Linked DNA regions of Homo sapiens: all the other regions are linked to region 4. Evidence: fine-mapped expression QTL. A gene starts in region 4. Each other region holds a variant in brackets. All regions are shown on one strand. Distances are between the middles of the regions. Region 1 holds the start of LOC124904900 (a long non-coding RNA gene). Region 2 overlaps BPI (bactericidal permeability increasing protein). Region 3 overlaps BPI (bactericidal permeability increasing protein). Region 4 holds the start of BPI (bactericidal permeability increasing protein).

The links.
Region 1: its variant is fine-mapped to the expression of BPI in whole blood (TOPMed, PIP above 0.99).
Region 2: its variant is fine-mapped to the expression of BPI in testis (GTEx, PIP 0.95).
Region 3: its variant is fine-mapped to the expression of BPI in whole blood (TOPMed, PIP 0.90).

What each region holds. Positions count from the first base shown.
Region 1 is chr20:38,249,456-38,252,142 of GRCh38, reverse strand. The region is part of intron 1 of KIAA1755; the gene reads left to right. It overlaps LOC124904900 (a long non-coding RNA gene), which reads right to left and starts at 180. Exons shown (of 3, transcript XR_007067581.1): 1 at 1-180. The variant C/T (reference allele first, on the strand shown) is at 1,185.
Region 2 is chr20:38,335,810-38,338,496 of GRCh38, reverse strand. It overlaps BPI (bactericidal permeability increasing protein), which reads right to left. Exons shown (of 15, transcript NM_001725.3): 15 at 992-1,351. The coding sequence ends at 1,313. Among named protein-coding and RNA genes, the nearest start is that of LBP, 9.3 kb to the left of the region's middle. The variant T/C (reference allele first, on the strand shown) is at 1,282.
Region 3 is chr20:38,325,325-38,328,011 of GRCh38, reverse strand. It overlaps BPI (bactericidal permeability increasing protein), which reads right to left. Exons shown (of 15, transcript NM_001725.3): 10 at 1,580-1,747; 11 at 357-424. Among named protein-coding and RNA genes, the nearest start is that of LBP, 20 kb to the left of the region's middle. The variant A/G (reference allele first, on the strand shown) is at 1,280.
Region 4 is chr20:38,302,617-38,305,303 of GRCh38, reverse strand. BPI (bactericidal permeability increasing protein) reads right to left here and starts at 1,148. Exons shown (of 15, transcript NM_001725.3): 1 at 951-1,148. The coding sequence starts at 1,080.

The DNA.
Region 1 (2,687 bases), 53 kb after region 4:
AGGATAGGAATCAGAATCCCATCTATGTGCAGAAGGGGAAACTGAGGCACATCAGGGAAAGATAGTTTAACTCACTGTTTCCCTGAGGTTAGGATGCAGACCACAGTGATGACATAGACAACTGGCAAGGGGCCTCTCTCTGGAGTATGGAGCTCTTTTGTCTCTTGATCTGGGTAAGTGGTTACAGGGGCTCATACATAGGTTAAAAAGGCATCAACCTGTGCCCTTTAAATTTGTTTATTTTACTTGACGAAAATGATACTTAAGATTATAATGGGGCCAGGCACAGTGTCTCATGCCTGTAATCTCAGCACTTCAGGAGGCCGAGGAGGGCGGATCACCTGAGGTCAGGAGTTCAAGACCAGCTTGGCCAACATGGTGAAACTGCATCTCTACTAAAACTACAAAAATTAGCTGGGCGCGGTGGTGGGTGCCTATAATCCCAGCTACATGGGAGGCTGAAGCAGAAGAATCACTTGAGCCCGGGAGGCGGAGGTTGCAGTGAGCCAAGATTGCATCACTGTACTCCAGCCTGGGTGACAAAGTGAGACTCTGTCTCAAAAAAAAAAAAAAAAGACTATAATAGCAGTGGCTCATTGCAAAGACATTGAAATAGAAGTATACACATCCCCCCACCCCCACTCCATTGCCCAGGTATAACCACTGTGAGCAGGTAGTTTTCTATGTCCCTCTGCACTACAAGGTTCCCTGGGTCAGTCCAGAAGGTCATGAGCATAGTATAGGGGCCAGGAATGCGGGCCTGGTTAGACACAAGGTATGTCACAGACTGGAACTAAATGACATGGAACCATGTGATGGACAATCAGTCCCTTTCAAATTCCCTGAGCTTCTCCAGACCTAAGGAGAAAGACTTCCTCTGGGGATAAGATGTCTTTAACATCTCTCTGATGCATTTGGGAGAAAGAGAGGGAGAAGACCCCCTTAGGCTCCAAGAGGTGACCAGATGTCCCTAGAATTTAATGGTACTATTCGTTTTCATTGTTTATTTTTATTTTTTAAAGTAGTTTATTTTCACAGAAATACAAACAGTAAACAAAAAATATACTTTATATAAGTAATATATTTAAATATATTTTAATAAATGAAATAATACAAAAACCATCCAATGCATCATCAGTTTATTTTTGGAGTTACATTCGATTTATGCCAGTTTACAGTTATTT[C/T]TCCATTTATAGTGATGATGTAATAACAGTTATAATATTGCCACAGATCCACCCAAACATGGTGATTCCTACCTTCTTCTTCTTGCCCTTGCCCCCACATGTGCCTGGTAACATGGCCGCCCCCACATATCCCCACCTGTGTAGAACATCATGGCGCCCTGCATTTGCATATTAAAAAGCTAGGGTAGTAGGGCCAGTTTTTTCGTGGGCTACATGAGTGACATGCCTGGTCAAACCAATCCCTTGAGCCCTATGCAAATCAGACACCATCTCCTCCAACCTCCTCGTAGAAGCAGCCACTTTTCTGCAGCACACGGGGTTTTCTCTTTGTTAGAATCCTCCTCCCTCTGTCTCCATACAGGGGAACTGTTTTCTTCTTCCTTCTTTCTTTCTTGCCTATTAAACTTTCTGCTCCTTAAAACCACACACACACACACACACACACAGACACACACACACACACACACACACCATAATAATAATAATAATAATAATATGACCACAGAAATTGTAGTGATGGCTCTTACTTAATGAGCACCTACTAAATTCTAGTCCTGTGCAGAGAATTCGCATGTATTACCTCAATACACCCAATCTTGATCAACTCCTTAAGGTGGGTGTAATTACAGTCTCCATTTTACAGATGAGGAAACTGAGGCACAACGAGTTAAATCTGACTTGCCAGGTACACACAACCAGTAAGTGACAGAACCAGAGTTTGAACCCGGGCAGTCTGGCTGCACTTGCATAACCACTGTGATGATACAGAGTCTCATTGAAAAACACAATTATGTAAGTTTTGAAAAAGTGAGTGGATTTGAAGAAAAATAGTAAGTGCTAATAGTATGCATGGTATGAGGAGATGCTAAACATCATAAAAGTCATCATGAATGATTAAATTTCCAAAACCAAAACAAATCAAGCTTAGCCCAGCTCAATATGCTTTCTTTACACAAGGAAAGAGGCCCAGAGAGGGAAAGGACCTACTCAAGGCTGCACAGAGAGGCTGGAGCCAACGTCTCAACAGAGAGGCCAGAGCCCAAGTCTCAGGAGAGAGGAGGGAGGGAGTGGGGAGGGCACCTGGCAGGGGAAGGGACTGCTCCCAGGATTGCATGGGGTGGGAAATGTCAGAGTTTGACCATGATTGGTGGGGGTTGGGGGGGGATTAGAAGAGGACACCGGGCCAGATGAGACCTTCCCTGTTCTGCCAAGTTGAAGGCCCCTCCCTCCACCTCAGTGTAAAACCTCCTGGGTACATGTGATTTCAGCACCAGATGCCTGTCGGTCCATCATCCTCTCTGAGCTCACTGCCACGGCAGTGCCCGGACCCTGTTTCCATCACAATGGGCTGTGGACACTCATTCATTCACTCATTCATTCTACAAATAGTGATGGCGGTCCCCTGCGCCCAGCACTGTGTGGGCTACGGGTGGGAGGGAGCCTCAGTCCTCTGTAAAAGCCTCCTGGCATTGGAATCTTGCTGGCATTGAGAAATGCCACCCT
Region 2 (2,687 bases), 33 kb before region 4:
TTATCTGCTTTTGCTCGCTACAAATGCTTCTCTTCAATTTTACCATCACCAATCTGGTTGAAGCTTGAATAACAACACATTCCTAATTTGTGCTCATCCCTTGCCCTCTTGTCCTTCTGATGCTTTCAGAAGTCACAATAAAACATTTTAAAAACTAAATCTGGTCATGTGGTCCCCCACTCCACCGTCTGCATCGAACTCCTCCAGTGTGTTGTTGCTCATCCTTATGGTCTCAGAGCACATGTCAGCAGTGTAGAAAGGCCTTCCAGGACTCCTCAATCAATCTGAAGTACAATCCATAAAACCCCATCTCATGGGCTGAGATAGCCCCCTCTGATGTCCCATGGCAGGAAATGGCCCAAAGCCCCCAAGGAAACTCCCCAGAATTCCAAAGACAGTCTGGGTTGGTGATCTGGCTTCCACACTAGAGCTGGGAGAGTCATGGGGAAGTGCTAATTGCACCCAAAGATGTGACTGAAGCAGAAAACCCCAATGGACTCTGTCACCTGGCCCATTGTTCTGCTTTTGGGGACAATGGCTGGGCAGGAGAACATGGATGAAACGGGGAGCCCAAGTGTGGGGCAGGGAAGGTGGGCTGTGCAGGCTAGCTTTTCAACAGCGACACCGTGTGGTAGTGACGGGAGCAACAGTCCTAGTGGACAGGTGACTACACAGGACAATGGGCTGTGCAGAATGACGGGTCAACAGCCACACCATGTGGTAGTGGAAAGAACAACAGCATAGTGGACTGACCCACTCTCCAGACCCTCTCTGTGTGACATTAGGAATTTGGACTAAGAAAATCACAAGGACATTTGGAACAATGAGACTTTCTGTTAATGGAGGCTGTGGGGATTCCAGAGATTAATTATAGAAATAAAAAGAGATGATTGTATCTGTGCTGTAAACTGGCACTGCCGGCCACATTGGTTACAGCCAATGAATAATAAATAAATGAACATAAAACAAGAAACAATACCAGCACACAGAATCCACATGAAAAAAACCAGAAGTTTTTTTTCATGAAGCACAAATGGAAATTTCTTGGTTACAATTGAAACACGATTCCTGGAGGAAATATCTCTGCAGCCTTAGCCCTTGAAAGAAGCTCATAATCCCTAAAATACACACCATGCACTTTTCCAATGAATAATGTTTCCTCGTGTTTAGATCATTTCTGAATCTGAGTCGAAGAAGTTTGCAAGGGGCTCTTGGTTAAGATCTGGAGAGGATTCCCTGGGGAAAGGCAGCCGGTGCCCCACAGCCCATCAGGAACAGGTG[T/C]GGCTGACAGCCCCCGGCACCCCTGGTGCCTTCATTTATAGACAACGTCTGCACCGAACAGCAGGAAGTTCTAGGGAGAGATGAGAATGTTGTCACCAGTTGAAGATGCACCCCTTGTTTGTGAGTGTGGAGCTACTGGAGTTTTAAGAAGGACATTTTGGGAGCCTGCCTCTTAGGAAGGAGAAAGGCAGGGCCAGTGGGGGTCACTCAGTGTTTCGCTGCCCGGATCTACACATCCACAGCTGCCAACATCTGCGAATCTGTCAGCAGCTTCCCTGGAAGCTGCCTCCTTCTTAGACACGGAGACCCCCCGGGCTGTTTTAGAGGCCTTCATTTGTCGTCCCTGCCTCATGGCAGCTCAAGGGAGTGCTTGTTCCAATCAAGGCTGCAAAACCACTTCTCTCTGCTTCTTTGTGTCCTTCACTCAGGATTTTTAGAAATGAAGAAATTAAATTGTGCCATGGGTCATTTTTTTTAAAACACGAACTTGGTAAAATGTGAGGAATATGCGGTATGTGTTTCCTCTGCACTCTTGGTTATTTTTCTACAGTCTCTCAGCCCCATTAATTAGCTCCCTGGTCTAAAGAATTGAGGATTGATGGCCTGGACATTGGGGGAAAGGGAGAGGGAGGGATCTGGGTGATGCGAGGCTCCCCAGGAGGGCCACAAGTTATCAGGAAAGCCTTTGACCAAGGTGAGAAATGCAAGCTGGGTGACGGTTTCGCTGCGGAGGTGACAGCTTTGTGGGGACATGCTGGGTTTAAGAGGCCTCAGGGTGGAGACATTGAGGGAGCCTGCGAATGCACAAGCTGAGAGTTTGGAAAAAATAAAAAGACTGGAAGCATGTCTGGGACATTGGGTGGCACGCAGGTGGCAGCTAAGCCTGAAGAGGTTGACAAGAGTGACGAAGGCTTGCCAATGGCGGGGGAAGAGAAGAGGCCTGGGGAGGGGTCCTGGAGATCTCCAGCTTGCAGAGAAGGGGCAGGAGAACAAGCAGAGGAGGTGGCAGGTAGACAACCAAGAGCTAGGGGAGTGCTGGAAACTAAGAGAAGAAAGCATGCCCAGGAAGCGCATCAGTGTCAAATGCAGACGGAAGTCAGCCTGGGCGAAAGCCACGAAGGAGACTTCTGTGCTGTGTCTAAATCTGCCAGACGTCGACCACATGTTATACCCCACAGTGCCTAGTATGATGCTGGGTGCAAAAGGTGTGCAACATATATTCGTTAAATATTTAAATGCACCTTAAAAAAGAGGCTCTTTGGCCCACAAATGCATTTCATTTTTGCCGAGTGTAGCGTGGGAACGATGCAGTGATGGTTCAAAGCCGGGAGCCTGGCTTTGAATCTGGACTTCATTTAACACTGTGTGGCTTTTCTGAACCTTGGTCTTTCTTTGTTTTTTAACAG
Region 3 (2,687 bases), 23 kb before region 4:
GCTGCATGCTGTTGTGGTTCAGTGGGGATCATCAGCTGACGCCTCCCAGCCATGAGGACTGGCCATATCCCAGAACACAGGACTGTCACTGCTAGAACCGGGACATTTATGGGTAAGCTGAGATGGTTGGTCACCTACAATGTGTGACCTCGAGCAAGTCACTTTTTCTCTGAGCATGAGTTTCATGGTCTGCAAAATGGGGATACTGTGGCCATCGCACACTCTTTGAGGTTTTAATGTGATGAGCCAACAGGAAAACAACAATGCAGTGCTTCTGTATATCACAGGACCACTGTCATCCCACAGACACCAAGGACAGAGGGGCAGCCCCCTCCTCCTCTCACAGGCCCACTTACCTATCCAGCTTGAGCTCTCCAACAAGCCTGTTGGACTCGGCGCTGACCTCCATGGAACCAGTTGTGTGCTGCCAAAACAACAACCCAGGGTGAAGTGCCCTGACCCAGGCACCTGATTGCAAGGCCTCCAAACCAAGAAGGGTCAGCTTCACAACGGCTCAGCAGGGCAGCATACACTGTGGGGTCAGGCCCACAGAGCCAGAGGAGTGGGGAGACTTCCCTTGGCTTTGTGGCTGTTGAGTCCTAAACTGTCAATTTCCATTTTCTCTCTCTACTTCCAGGACCATTTCAGAGTTCTTGGGCCACTCTCGGAGAGGCTGCATAAGACAGGCCAGCCCCATTCTCACAATCCCTCATTCATTAATTCATTCAAAAAATATGAGAAGGAAGTCCCCGGTTCCCACCTCAGCTGTTCTGTGCAGTCTGTGTGGTCTTGGATGACCTCTTAGGACCTATTCTGTCTGCAAAGTGGGAATAACAGGTCTCAGCTTGGGAGACCCAGTAGACCTGCCTAAGGCCTCTAAGTGCTTCCTGGTGCAGAGAGTGTCTGAACCACACCCTCAGTGGCCATATGGGTGCCACCAAATCTTTGCGGAGTGATGGAGTGATCAAAGGGATGAATGCATAAATCAACAATGGAGTGAAAACTGAGGCAAATGAAGGATTAAAAAATATGTGAATTGAAGAATAACAAAGATATGCATGAATGAATAAATGATGGACGAATAAATGAACAAATATACAAATGAATGATCAATTGAACAAAGGTATAAGTAAATGAATAATTGAATAAATGAGTGCAAGTGGGAATCAGAAAATGTATAACATATTTCAAGTCAACAATCTAATAAATAACTGAATGAATTAATAATTGAATGAATGAACAAATACACAAATGCATAATTGAATGACTAAAGATATAA[A/G]TGGATGAATTGGAACAGTACACATATTTCAAGCCAACATGGAATGAATAATTGAATGAATGAGAAATTGACTGAATGAATAATTGAATGAATAAGTAAACAAACGCACTAGTGAATGGCTGGGTGAATGAATACCTCCAGGAGTCGGCACCATTGAGTACAGTGACTCAAGCCTCAGGCTCCGGAGTGACACAGTCCAGGTTTGAATCCAGACAGGATTCACATGGTCTCCTGACTCCAAAGACAGTGCTGTTGGGACTGTCTGGGGCTCCTCATCTGTCCAACCCAGGAACTGCTTACCATGCCAATCAGGAAGAGGGAAGCCAGGGAGGAGTTGGGGAGGACGGCAAAGGCCTGGACATCCACGGCAGGGTAGAAGGTAAGGCCGGTGGGCTGCACAGACAGGTGTGGCGGGGTGGAGGCTGAGACATGGATCTGTATCTTCATGTTGGGAAACTTCTTGGCCACCTGCAGCCCCCAGTGGAGACAATCAACGAAAGGAGGAGTTTCTGTTAAAATGTTTCTGAATCCTACCTTGGCCTGCCCCTACTTAAATACCTTCAATGTCTTCCCATTGCTCTTAGAATAAATCCTAAGATTGCACAGTCTGCCAGCTGGCACCCTGCCAACCTCACCACATGTACCTCTGCCTCTTGTCTTCCATCTCTGGCCACATGGAACTCTTTCTGTGCCCCAAACTCAACAAGCTCTCTTGCCATCTAAAATCCTTTGCACTCTCTGTTCCCCATTGTTAGATACTTTTCCTCGCATTCTTCTCTCGGCTCTTTCCCTTCCTTCAGGTCTCTGCAGATGTTACTTTCTCAGACAGCAGTAGTGGCTTCAAGGGGGAACTAAGGAGGGCCTTTGTGACCTTCTTCCCCTTTCTCTTAGTCTCTGATCTTCCCCCAGGTAAACCCACAGTCTGAGTAAAAATAATGTGATTGTTATGCAAATGAAGCTTCAAGACAACACTCCTGGACACCCCTAGCAGCCACACCTCTCCCCCCAACCAGAGCTTCTCTGTATAGAAATTTCTGGGGTTTCACCACCAGAGACACTGCTATGAACAGAATGTGTCCTCCCAAATTCATATGTTGAAACCCTAATTCCCAGTGTGGCTGCATTTGGAGAAGGGCCTCTAACGAAGTAACTGAGGTTAAGTGAGTTCATAACAGTTGGGCCCTGATCTGATAGAATTAGTGTCCTTATAAGAAAAGACACCAGAGAGCTCTCTCCCACCCGCCACCATGCATGCATTGAGAAAAGGCCCTGTGAGGACACAAGAAGGAGGCAGTCTACAAGCCAGGAAGAGAGCCCTCACTAGAAACCAAATCTGCTGACACCTTAACCTTGAACTTCCAGTCTCGAGAGCTATGAGAAATAAATTCTGTTGTTTATGCCACCAGGT
Region 4 (2,687 bases):
CAGGCTTCAGGGCCATACTCCTTCCCCCTAGCTCTTCTGTCTTCTGTGGCCTTCTGTCTGCAGCTCTAGGATTCAGTGATGTCCTGCTGGGCTGGGGTGGGAATTCAGGGGTGGGATACCAGGTCCCCTGAGTCCTGTCTGTTTTCCCAACGCACCCCAACTGGTGAGGCTCTGCCTTCCCCTTGGTCTGATTTCCCTGGGGCTGGGTGTCACCCACTGTTTTGCAGGTCATCTCTCTGCCATCGGGAGGCAGCATCGAGCAACCCCGTGCTGGGGCATCAGGCAAGACCAGAGCTCAAATCCAGGCTGCCCACTTCTCACGTGTAAATGTGGATAGCAGCAGTTTGTCTTACACAAGGCTGAAGTGAGGGTAAAAGAGACTGTGTGTGTAAAGTTCCTAGCTCAATGCCTGGCACAGGTTAGAGCAGGTCTTTCTCTCCTCTGCCTGGGCTGGGGTGAGTGGTCTGGGGGGACCCTCTTTGTGTCACCCAGTGGAGCACTGTGCACAGTATGGCCGCCAGCCCCTGCAGTGGGGAGAGCACGGGGTGGGGAGGTCCTCCCACACTCTCCCTCTGACCCTGCTCAGCCTCCTCAGCAACGAGAGGCAAATGGCAAGGCTGAGAACTGGCTTTGGAAAGAAGAGAAGGGCTTATAAGTCAAAGGTGGAGGTTACATAGAGGGAAGGAGGGGACCATGAGGACCCTCAGGGGTCTGAGCACTGGACTTGGAGTCCTCTAGACCAGTGCTCCAATCCCAGCTCTGCCATCCCAGCCCTGCAATCTTAGGCAACTCGCTTTGCCTCAGTTTCTTCATATATAAAATGGGGGCAAGGGGACCTGCCCTGAGGTGCTATGAGTGTGCCAGGTGCTGGATCTAAAGGGGTGCACACAGTAGATGCTAAGTAAGTGCTCCTCAGGGGTGGAGAGGAGGGAAGGGAGGCATCCAGTTACCGTAGTCCAGGCCCTTCTGGGAGATCCTGACCACGACGCCAGGGTTGACGGCCGCTGTCACGGCGGTGCCTATGGCGACCAGCACCATCAGGGACGCCCATCTCGGCGCGTTGCAAGGGCCCCTGGCCATGTTCTCTCTCATCCTCCAGAGCTGCCAAAACCTCAAGGCCTTGAGGTTGAACCAGGGAGCTATAAAAGAGTCGGCTGGGGAAATGCAAGTCAGTAGAATGTGGAAAGGAGGAAGGAACCTGGTGAGGGTGGGAAAGAGGGAGGGCCGCTGTGGTTTTCCATTGTGGTTAGGGCCCCACAGGCAGGGAGAAGTGCAGCCTGGGAGGCTCGCATGTCCATGTATGCATGCGTGTGTGTGCGCGGGCGTGCGTGTGTGTATGTGTGTGTGTAGATTGGTTCCCCTCCCTAGGCACCCCATTCCCCGCTCTGTGTCCCCACCCAAATGCCCCCATCTACAGACTCCCTTGAAGGTGGGTGGCACAGACATAAGGATTCATATTTTTCTTTCTACTTTTGATTTCTTTTGTATTTTTGATAGTAAAACATTTAAGAAAACAGATGCTTTCGTGTTTTCTTGTCCTGAGAGGCAGTAGTGGTAATGATTCAATGCTCACATTTTAGAGTCTAGTATCTTGGCTATGGTTTTAAATCTTAGCCCTGTCATTCTCTAGTGGTCCGACCTCAGGCAAGCCCTTTAACCTCTCTGAACCTCGGTTTTCTCTTCTGCAGAAGAGAAATACATAGTACTGCTCCCTCTCTGGATTGTGGAGAAGATAAAATGAGCTTAAAACCACGTAAAGCATTTAGCATACTGCCCGTGCAAAATAAATATCCAAATGCTAGCTATTAATGTTATCCTGATTTTAAAAGTAACCCATGTTTATTGGCCAAAATTTGAGAAAGAAACAAGAGAATACAAATTACATATAACTCCCTCTTCCGGAGACAAGCCAAAGTGTATTTTAGAGTATTTCTTTTCTCCCTCTTTTGTTGGTAAGCATAGGTAGAGAGTCCATGTTTGTTTGTTAACCAATATGGGATCACCTGGTCAGTTTGGTAAAGTTCCCTTTTTTCGAGAAACAATAGGTAGCAAATGTTCTTCTCCAGCATTAAATATTTCATTGCTTCCTCATCCCACAGCTTTCTTATCCAAGCTTCTGTTTTTGTACATTTTTACTCCTTCCTTTGGCAGATGTAGAACCTGAGGCTTCACCAGGGGAAGCGTTCTTCCCACGGTCACTCAGCAAGCTGCTAGCAGAGCGAGGATCAAAACACAGCCCTCCAGATGCATCCCACACCAGCCCGAATCCCTCAGCGCCTTGGGAGTTGGGGGGATGTAGACACTCCCCACCGCCAACCCAGCTTTCCAGACAGGTCCCTGTCTGCTCAGCCCCTGCCCCTCCCTCTGCAGCAGCCTCAGGCCTCGGGTGGGCAGGAACCCCACTGGGCAGCCTGCTCCGTCTCCATGGTGATGAGAGGAGGGGCGGGGCTGCAGAAGGGGCAGCCAGCTTCTCTCCCGCTGGGTCCTCATCAGCCCCCTAGTGCCCTGTCTCCCCGACTTTGGACTTTATGAAAGTCTAATGAAGTCCGCTGAGCTCGGAGGACGTGAGACCTTCTGAAGTTTTCTTCTTTTTTTCTTAAAAGTTTTTTTCTTCCTCTCTTCGTTTGGTTCTAAAAGAGTCTCCCCTCCTGCTTCCATCTGCAGCAACTAGAATTCTTCTGGCTTGC